Regions from separate parts of the Homo sapiens genome. Here region 1 is linked to region 2. The links come from fine-mapping of genetic effects on gene expression. A gene starts in region 2. The other region holds a variant in brackets. All regions are shown on one strand. Distances are between the middles of the regions.

Region 1 (5,377 bases), 150 kb after region 2:
AAAACAGCCATACTCATTCATTTATGTATTTTCTATGGCTGCTTTTGCACTATAATGGCAGAGTTAAGTAGTTTCAGCACAAATCATCTATCCCACAAAATCTAAAATGTTTCTGTCTGAGCCTTTACAGAAAGTGTGCTGACCTCTGCTTTATGCAGTAGTTGTCATATATTTTACATCTACATCTTATAGCCCCAAATAAGATTTTACTTTAAATAGGTTTTGCTTTTAACAATTCTGTGCATTTTGAGGAAACTAAAATAAAAAATGGTATTTTATAATTACCCTCATGTATACCAGTTTGAGTGTCAGTTTTCCCTGAAGATCTGAGTTTCCATCTGATAACATTTTCCTTCAGCCTGAAGAACTAACTTTAGTTTGGAGTGCAGGTTGATTGGGGATCAATTCTAGCTTTCTGTTGTATGAAATGTCTATTCTACCTTCATTGTTGAAGGACAGTTTTGCAGGATACAGAATTATAGATTGACAGGTTTTTTTCTTCTATTAAAGACTTCACTGTCTGCTGGCCTCCATTGTTTCTGTTGAGAAATCAGTGATGGTCATTTGAATTGTTCCCTTGTATTCAATGTGTCATTTTTGAGACCAGCCACCAGCCTGGGCAACACAGCAAGACCCTTATCTCCCCCTAAAAAAGAAACTCTAGGTTCTATTGTTCCTTTGCTCCTCCAAAGAGTACTGTGTTGTTTAACAGGCAGTTTACTTCATACACTGTGTTTGCGTCCCCAGCCCCCCATTTGCTTGGTTCGTTTATTCTCCAGGCTCTATGGTTGCTTTTAATATATTTTGGTCAGAATTTGTAGCTGTTATCCATGGAAGAATTGAATCAAAAGGCACTTACTTGGTATTTTGTGGTGATTCATTTTCAGGTTGCCCAGTCTGCCATATTGCTAGAAAATTAAGTTTTATTACACTTATAATAAGGAGGAAAAGATCCATTTCTATGTTGGGAAATGGTTGTGGGGGGAAAATGCAAGGGTTTTGGAGTCAGATCAGTTATGAAATTTGGCTTTGCTACCTGCTAGTTATGTGACATTGGTTGTTTTCATTTAACCTTTTTTATTTTATCTCAAAAATGGGGATTAAAAACACCGATATGAAATGTTTGTAAGATCTGAGCTAGTCCCACTCTACCTGAACCATACACGTATTTCTTTGATAAAAGGTGAGACTTTGTCCCACAGGGTCCATTTTGTTTAATTTGCTGGAACCTAGGAATGAATATGCGTTTTCCTTTAAGTTTGTCAGATTCATCCCTGAGAGGTCTGAGATTTAAAGAAAAAATCTATTACCAGATCACGTAAATGTTTGAAATCATTTTAAAAAATCACTTATTTTTCCTTTTATAGGAATCACCTCCTCATGTAGAAAATTACTGTCTACCAGAAGCTATTTCATTTATTCAGAATAATAAGGAACTTGGGACTGGATTATCACAAAAGAGGAAAGCTCCTACAGAAAAAAATAAAATCAAACGACCTAGAGTACACTAATCGCATCTACCCTTTAGTTACCAAACATTAAATGTTTTTAAAAATTGAAAGCCTGAATGTGACTGTGATAGATTTGGGTAGTAATTTAAAGATGAGTACCTGAAGAATTCTGCTTCAGAGTATAATGATGACCCTTCTTGAGTTTTGAACACCTGAAATTGTAATCACTGAAATATTAACTGTTTCTTAATAAAAAGTTACCTGAAATAACAACAAAATACAACTCCTCAGCTAGCTTGCTGTTAAACCACATTGAAGTCTGTTAAAAGATATTTATTTTTCTTGTAAATATCTGAAGCTGTAGCTTAGTGGAAATTTTAGCAAGGTAATGGATTTTGCTTTAAAATGTCTGCCTTACAAATTCATAACAACAAGATTTGTCAGTCAGCATTTATTCATGTTTTCCCTGATTTTTATCTTCTCACCATTTTACCTCTTTTAACAGGAGCCTGAGCACAAGGTTTAATGAGGAAGCTGGGGCTATAAATATGTGTGTATATATGTATATGTATGTTTGTACAAATCTCCATGATGTTTGCCAAGTTTGAATGCGCAAAACTTGGAAAATGTGACAATAAAGAATAAAAGTAGTAACTCAAATTAGTATTAAGATGTGTTTACATAGATAAATTTTTTAAAAGAGCACCCTGGCATCTGTTCTTCTGTTGAAGCAACAAAACATTTATGTAACGTAAAAAATGAATTGCAGGGGCCTGGGTGCGGTGGCTCGTGCCTGTAATCCCAGCACTTTGGGAGGCTGAGGCAGGCGGATCGTCTGAGGTCGGGAGTTTGAGACCAGCCTGACCAACATGGAGAAACCTCATCTGTACTAAAAATACAAAAAATTAGCCCAGTGTGGTGGCACATGCCTGTAATCCCAGCTACTCAGGAGGCTGAGGCAGGAGAATCGCTTGAACCCGGGAGGCGGAGGTTGCGGTGAGCTGAGATCGCGCCATTGCACTCCAGCCTGGGCAACAAGAGCGAAACTCCATCTCAAAAAAAAAAAAAAAAA[G/AG]AATTGCAGGCCAGGCACGGTGGCTCATGCTTGTAATCCCACCACTTTGGGAGGCCAAGGTGGGTGGACTGCTTGAACCCAGAAGTTCAAGACCAGCCTGGACAACATGGCGAAACCCCATCTCTGCAAAAAATAGCAAAAAATTAGCCGGGCATGCTGTTTGATGCTTGTAGTCCCAGCTACTTGGGAGGCTGAGGCATGAGAATTACTTGAACTCAGGAGGCAGAGGTTGCAGTGAGCTGAAATCATGCCACTGCAACTCCAGCCTGGGTGACAGAATGAGACCCTGTCTCAAAAAAAATAAATGAATTGCTTAACATTTCTGATATTTGTTATTTAGAATATTGCCCTATTAGATTAAAACATACTGTTATTGGAACTCTGTATTGCATTAGCCTTTATTATGCTAAACCTAAACACCTAATACTACATGCGTTACCAGAATTCTCTATAAATACACCTAATTTCATTTTAAGGACAAACTAGAATCCGTTAGGAATGTAATTTTGATGTAAACCGTTCAATTCCAAATGACTTTTTGAAAGGCAGATTCAAACAGTGAAGGAGAGAGTGCTCAACTTGGACACAAAATCCCTTAAATTTTCATCAGATTTTCTTCAAAATGGAGTTGAGGGTATCCCTGCTGCTAGAGGATTGGTCCTACAGGGTTTTCAGCTTTGAGCTAGTTCACAGCTTAGGACAATACAAATTCTACACAGAGAAATAGGTAGCATTATGATGTAAACTGTCCCCCTCCCACCAAACAAAAACCACATGGGCCTGTCTTTATCAGAGCTATTTTATTTTAGCTGAATCATTTTGTAGATTGTAGTACGTTTCCCTGAATTTTATTACTCAGAATCCTTTGAAATAGGCCAGGCACAGTGGCTCACACTTGTAATCCCAGCACTTTGGGAGGCCAAGGTGGGCAGATTACTTTAGGTCAGGAGTTCGAGACCAGCCTGGCCAACATGACGAAACTCCATCTCTACTAAAAATACCAAAATTAGCCAGGTGTGCCGGCACGTGCCTGTAATCCCAGCTACATGGGAGGCTGAGGCAGGAGAATCACTTGAACCAGGAGGTGGAGGTTGCAGTGAGCCGAGATCGCACCACTGCACTCTAGCCTGGGTGACAGAGTGAGACTCCATCTCAAAAAAAAAAAAAAAAAAAATTCTTTGAAATAGTTACTTTTTAAATTACCTAATATACCACTTTCTTTTCTGCCAAAATTATGAATGGTTTTCCAGTTCAAACTTAGACACACAGTTTACCATTTAAGGCTCCAGGTCTCAGTTTCTCCTCCTAACTTTCCAGCATCTGCCCATACTCTGTATAAGCCACTTGAACTCTGGCTTTGGCTGTTAATCTGTAAATGTCCTAATGCCAGCAACAATATCCTCTTATATACAAATAATTCCAAGCATAGGTAGTCTTCTTGTTTAAAAAGGGGAGGGGGCAGAACTTGCCTTGATTAGATTAGTATGAGTTTCTTTTCTGAATGGCTACGATATTTTAATCTGTGATATTTAAATTATCACCTTATATCCCTCCACGAATTTTCCTGTGCATTAGTCTGATCTCACCAACATTCGTTAATTCAACAGGTAGGAATCCTCAACCTGTGCCTAGGATTCAGCAACAAACCACCTGGAACACATGGTCCCTTAGCACTTGAAGAGGTAGGAATCCTTACTGTAAATACAGTACTCAATTATACTCAGATTTAGTATTTACACTGTTAAGGACTGAGCTTGTCCCCCTAAAATTCACAGGTTAAAGCCTAACCTGCTATGTGACTGTAGACAGAGCCTTTATAAGGGGATTAAATGAGGTCATAAGAATGAGTCCCTAACCCACCAGGACTAGTGTCCTGGTAAGAAGAGGGAGGCACACCAGGAGTTTGCCGGCACGGAGGAAAAGCCCTGTGAGGACACGGGGAGGGCAGCTATCTGTTTACACACCAGGAAGAAATGTCTCACCAGATACCAACCCTGGCCGTCTCCTGGATTTTGGATTTCCAATCTCCAGAACTGTGAGAAAATAAATTTCTGTTTAAGCCACTCAGCTTGTGATGTTCCTTTGTGGCAGCCTGAGCAGACCAGTAACAATATTAACAGTAATAAGGTTCTTACTTTGGGGCCTGAGATGCCTGGGAATGGAACAGGCTGTTTTGTATATGAGCATTTTTAGGGTAGAGTTCATAATTCTAGAGTTTGGATCTGTGACTTTCCACCCAAAAGTCACAAACCACTGCTCTAATGCAAACCTATTATTTCACATTTACACCTCTCACCTAGAAGTGCTTTAATACAGGCTGCTTTGTATCAGGGCTTGGTTTCCTTCTGACCTTTCAAGACATAAAAATCATTACTAGCTTGAGGCCATGCAAAAATAAGCAGTGGGCCATAGTTGACTGTTCCTTATTTTCTATCCCTAAAAAGATTTTAAAATCTAGATCTGTCAACAAGCAAGGCACCCAGCTCAATTTTTTTTTTCTTTTGAGACGGAGCCTCGCTCTTGTTGCCCAGGCTGGAGTACAGTGGCATGATCTCAGCTCACTGCAACCTCTGCCTCCTGGGTTCAAGCCATGCTCCTGCCTCAGCCTCCTGAGTAGCTGGGATTACAGACGTGTGCCACCACGCCCAGCTAACTTTTCTATTTTTGTAGAGATGGGGTTTCGCCATGTTGGCCAGGCTGGTCTCAAACTTCTGACCTCAAGTGATCTGCCCGCCTCAGCCTCTCAAAGTGCTGGGATTACAGGTGTGAGCCACCGCGCCCTGCCACTCAGCTCCTTTTCTACCATCCTGAGTAGCAGTCTATGGCAGACATACTTGACAACAACTCAGGCATA
Region 2 (5,377 bases):
CACCATCTCACAGTTTTATCAGGGACAGCCAGACACAGCCCTGGGGGAGAGAGGCCAGAGGTGGAAGGGCCCACTCCCTATGCTGAGGGAGAGACAGCATCGCCCCTAGAAAGGCCTTGACAGCCACATCCCCTCAGTCCTGTCCTCCTCTCACTCCTGTCCATGAACACTACAGGGCACAAGTTCTACTGCATTCTGAGTCTGAGCCAATAGAAGGTTGCCCTAATGGCCTCCCAGTTTCCTACTGACCACCCTCTGCTGGCCAGAGGGGTGCAGGCATGGCCATCACCTCCCAGCTGGAGATGACAATCTGCTCCTCTGTATCCGCCTTGTCTCCTCCCATCACTGTCCTGGCCCCTGGCCCCCCATGGAACATAAGCCTCAGTATGCACAGGGCGTTTTCAGCTACCCCAACACATTGGCTTGCTACCTCAACTATGGAAAACCAGCGGGGGAGGAATTGCCATCTTTTTGAGAAGAGGGAGTGAGACTCAGAGAATGATGCCTTTTTTTTTTTTTAACCCAAGGTCACCCTGCTTGTCGTTGGCCAAGCCAGGCCTAGAATCTGGGTCTCCAGACTCTGGGTCTGCTACTCAGGGCACAAAAGAAGAAAACATTCTGAGTTACACCCCTTCTTGGCCAGTAGTTGAGGGTAAATTAACGAAAAGAATTAATTTGTCTGTAACTCTTGTCTGTTGCTCTCTGTTTAGGAAGAACTAAAAACTCCACAAATTCAACAGTCTCCCCTCTGTCTCCACTGAACTATCCCTCCATTTTCACCACACTTTTTGGCTGCCATTCACAAAAAAAGCTGAAGCCAGCCATGGGTAACTATTAAAATCCATGTGGTTGCAGAGACAGCATCCCTATCACATGAGCTTTTGCCCTGTCCCCAAGGCCCTCTGTCATCTCCACTCCTTGTGGGCCACCACAGCAAGGCTGACTCACTGGCTCTGAAGAAGATCCACAAAGCCTGTGGAGAGGAGGCCCACAGCTCTCCAGGATGCATGAGGAGGGGCCACCAGGGATGGCCACCCCAGCGACCCCCATTTTCCCTCTTGGCCCATGGGAAATCCTAGGAGGCAACATAAGCCTGTGGCAGCCCCTCCACAAAGCCCTGCCTCCAGAGTTCCCATAGGCGAGAATGTGTCCTCAGTGGAGCATTACCTTGCACAGCCTGTGAAGTGCTCTGTGCGGGGATAAAGGCAAGTAACGTGGGGTCCTCTCTCAAGGAATTGCTAGCTTATGGGGAGAGAAAACTAAACGTGGAAGCCCCAACAGTGTGACAAATGCCCCATGAATGGCAGGCAGAAGTTAGAGTATGAAGGGGGCCCCACCTCAGGAGGTCGGGGAGTGTGGCGTCAGCCACTGCCCCATAGCAGGATGTGTGCAACATCTGCCACTGGTACTCAGCATCTGCCACCTCGCTGACCCTCATTTGACCCTCCCAGGCAAGTGCTGTGATGACCCCCTCCCTGGTGAGGAGCCGGCCAGGACTTGGATCCAAGAAGTCTGGCTTCAAACCCCATGCTCTGACCGCTCGATGGCACCGCTTCCTTGGCAGGACATCTACAGCTCCCAGGGCACCCAGGGGACATCAGCCTCTGAAAGGGGAATGGTCAGACCCGGGAGGCCTTGAATGCCATGCTAAGGAGTTCGGACTTGACAAGAGGCAGCAGCAAAGGGTTTTGATAACCTGGTTAGACGTGCTCTGATTTATTGTATTTCACTGCTGCAAGATTTACTGGACAAAGAGGAGGAGGGGGAGAAGACAGTGAGTGCAGTGAAAGGTGTCTAGAAGCCCAAGCAAAGGCCAGGGGTGGGGCGTAGAGAGGCAATGGAAAGGCACCCAGACACCCAGGCTTCCAGCCTGAGCGCGGAGTGCATGCAGGCTGCGCGGTGGCCGCCCGGGTTGCAGGGAACGCGCGGGCCAGCGACTCTGCGGTGCTACCCCGTGCCCGCACTCACCCAGGACGGCGCAGACCAGCAGGGCTCCCACGGCGAGCCTCATCTTCCGGGTGCGGCGCTGAGCAGCGAGCACAGTCGGACTCGCTTCTGTGCAGCCTCCGGCGCCCCGCGTCCCTTTATTCCATTCCCGGCCTGGGCGGGCTGGGCGCAATCTTTGACCTCCCGTGTTTGTGCAGCCGGGTTGCCCAATCGCCCCTCTCCCAACCCCCCTTCCTTACTCGTCCCACTGATCACCTCATTTTCTGAGCTCTGGAGACGACCCGCGAGTGGAAGGAGTCCAGCACAGAAATGTTGATGGGAAGGGACATGAAGCACAATGCAGCCATTGTCATCGCGGCTCGCTCGGTGCCAGGAGCGGCTACGGCGGGCTGGGAGCCGGGGGGCTCTGCTCCTGACTCCAGGGCTGCAGAGCTGGTCCGTGCCACCAGTCCTATCTGCGCAGTCCACAGAGGAAGACTCCGAGGCTGGAGAGGGAAAAGAACTGCGCCCAGACCCCACACTAGAACTGCAGAATGACAGGCAAAGCCCCTTTTGGGGGAGGATGCAGGAGAAACAAGCTGGGCTCAAGGTCAAAGACAGACTCAGCACCTTTTGCTCCCCACCAGGTGTCCCTCGAAATCCTGCTCCTGGGCTCTCAAAGGTCCCCCACGGAGGAGCTGCTCCCTCTTCCTGCCCCGCTGAGCTCAGGCTCCTGGGCTGGAAAACTTCCCGCCCTCAAGCTTCCTGTGGGACACCTTAGACTAGGGACAGAGTCATAGGGGAAGATGAACTCCCTCCAACAAGAAGGTTCCAGGAACATGGTCAAGACACTGTGAGGCTCAGAACAAAGTGTCATCTTAGCACAAAGCAAGCGGCCCAGTGGACGGTGTGGCCTGTTCTTACAGCCTGGGGCCACCATGTCCCCCTCTAGTCGATGAGTCTCCTAACCAGTTTAATTACACATCCTTATCATGAAAAATATTGAACTTGTGCCTTCTATATGCTTATATTTTAACTAAAAAATGTGTACACTTCAATCATGCACAAGGAATAGAAATTTGTAAAAGGATGAGCTAAAGATGAAACTCATTTTCAAATGTCGTTTTGCTTATGCGGCCTTATACAGGATTATTATCTCAAGGCATAATATACTTGGGGAAAGGTCAAGATTCCTTCCACGAAGTGTAAATCCAGACTTCAGAGATTTTGCCAAAAGTTACTTCTTATCCAACCTGACCAGATGGTCATTCATTCTGTCTCATGTTTTAGTTGACCAAGCTCATATCAAGCCTAGTGGACACGTCAGGTCAGTCATTTGATTTTTGTTCACTTGTTTTTGTGTTGTCAGAATTGTCTCCTAATTCTAGTTTCTTTGTAAGAATCTTTTTAAGGCATGTGTGCATCTCGTGAAGGTTGGAGTTAAAGCCAGATTATCTAATCTGTACATCCGTTTAACTGGGCACATACAAACCACAAAGTATGGAAATAAAAATGCCAAAACAAAGGGCAGGGTCGGCACTCCCCTTTTCACCTTTAGCATTGTGAGGTGAACCCCATCTTCCCTTAGGACACCTGAAAGGCTCCATCTGTCATGACTGCAGACTCAGGTGGGAGATAGGGCCAATTCACACATTCAATATGAATGAATGATAATTTGTTAATCTTTTGCAATAACAATAAATATAACTGGAAGTTAGATTATGTTCTCCCACACTCCAAAAGATTATCTCATATGCAAAGGGGTTACATACCTCCCACTTTAGAGTCCACTACAGAAGCTTTCTGTTTACAGTGAGGACAGAAGTCAAGTCTGGCTTTCCCAACACATCAGCCTCACCAGCGAGGGAGAGTGACCACTGCTGCCCTGTCTTACTCCCCCCTTGCCCGTCCACGGGCCCCTTGTGCTTGAGCCATAGGGAAAGAAGACTGTTAGCATGAGGGCCATATTCCTACTGCCCCTGCAGCAGGCTCTAGGCAGTGGTCTGGATTCATTTGGAGACCTTGAGGTAAGGATGTGAGATGAGCAGGAAAAGTCAGGGGCAAGGCTAACTGGAAGGCACCCAGCAGAGCAGCATGCACACATACAGCTGATGCATGGACAGGCCCTGTAGTAAGCTTGCAGGGTCTGCCAGAGAGCAGGAAGTGCAGTTACGAAAGGTTGAGCCCATGCCACAAACTCAGGGAAGCTCAACGCAGGGCATGGAAAGAAGATGGTCAGTGATTCTCCTTTTCTGGAGCCCATCTACATTCGTAGACTAAGCCCCGCTGAGGCCAGTCCTCCAGCCACAGGCCCATAGCCTAGCCAGAGCCCCTCAGCAGGGAGCAACTACCTACTGGCCAGGCTGAGTCCTCTCCAGAGCAGCCAGCTCTATGCCCTGTCCTCAGAAGGGTCCTTTGAGTCCAAGCCCAAGACAGGTGCTGGGAAGGAAATATACAGCCTCATGGGATATGAAGGAAGCTCAGACAAGACATAGAGAACTGGTGCTCCCACGTCATCTACACACACCTAGATGGAGAGGCCAGGGCCTTGGCTTTTGCTCAAGAGGACAACAGCAGAGCTTCGTGCTTGCCATTCCTTGGATGGGGTAGGCAGGGGTGAGGCCAGCTTTGGGGTGTACATGTGTGCATGGCCCTAGCTGTATGGGGTGCCTATGCCTGTATATGTCTATAGGAGCATGTGAAGGTAAGAGGTTAACATTACAGCGCTCCATGTCCATGACACTTGTACCTGTGCTCTCATTTATATTCTTTAATTCTATACCAGAGATGTTCTGGAGTTGGAGAATCACTGTCCCTTTTAATAGCTTAATGATGGCTGAGATTTACTGGGAGCTTCACTGAGCACTTACCATACCCCTCTGACTTTGGTGCTTTAGCATCTGTATCTTACAGATGAGACAAGGAAACTGAGGACAAGAGAGGATGATATCTTGTTCAAGGTCAGCTGCAAAGTCAGAATACAAAAGAAGGCAGTCTGGTTCCAGAGTGTACACATCCACCAGGGACACTGCCTCTCCCAGGAAACCAGGACATGCAGGGGCCAAGGAGCTCATCTGGGGTCACACCGAGAGAGGGACAGACATGAGACTCCCAGCCTTGCCATTTCTCCAAAAGCACACAGCCCCCAGGGCTTTGCCAGCACAGGGGCTGGTCAGTCTGGGAGAGGTCTGAGTACCAACTGCAGATCCTTAGACATGGACTGGCTTGATTATGCTCAGCTGGAAGAAAATATCATGTTTTTATCCCCTTGTATGTGTCAGGCACTGTCCTGGGGCAAGATCATTGGGGCAGCCATGCAAGATAAGATCAGTACCTCCATTTATCACATGTGGTCATTACAGTCAAATGATGGGTCCTTATTCATGGAGCTCTGAGACCTGAACTCAAACTTCCTAAATCTTGCCCTTCTCCAGACCACAGCTGCCTTCTT

Which allele goes with the higher level. Positions count from the first base shown, and alleles are read on the strand shown. Sizes are in standard deviations (SD) of each study's normalised expression.
For the expression in fetal neocortex of the gene that starts at base 2,059 in region 2, AG is the low allele of the variant in region 1 and G is the other (moderate effect, 0.63 SD a copy in Walker 2019).

What was found. PIP is the estimated chance that this variant, and not a neighbour inherited with it, causes the effect.
Region 1: its variant is fine-mapped to the expression of TF in fetal neocortex (Walker 2019, PIP 0.90).

The regions. Positions count from the first base shown.
Region 1 is chr3:133,597,384-133,602,760 of GRCh38, reverse strand. It overlaps TOPBP1 (DNA topoisomerase II binding protein 1), which reads left to right. Exons shown (of 28, transcript NM_007027.4): 28 at 1,368-2,523. The coding sequence ends at 1,511. It overlaps LOC124909437 (a long non-coding RNA gene), which reads left to right and starts at 3,684. Exons shown (of 2, transcript XR_007096110.1): 1 at 3,684-4,205; 2 at 4,299-4,586. The variant G/AG (reference allele first, on the strand shown) is at 2,524.
Region 2 is chr3:133,743,075-133,748,451 of GRCh38, reverse strand. TF (transferrin) reads right to left here and starts at 2,059. Exons shown (of 17, transcript NM_001063.4): 1 at 1,969-2,059; 2 at 1-40. The coding sequence starts at 2,011.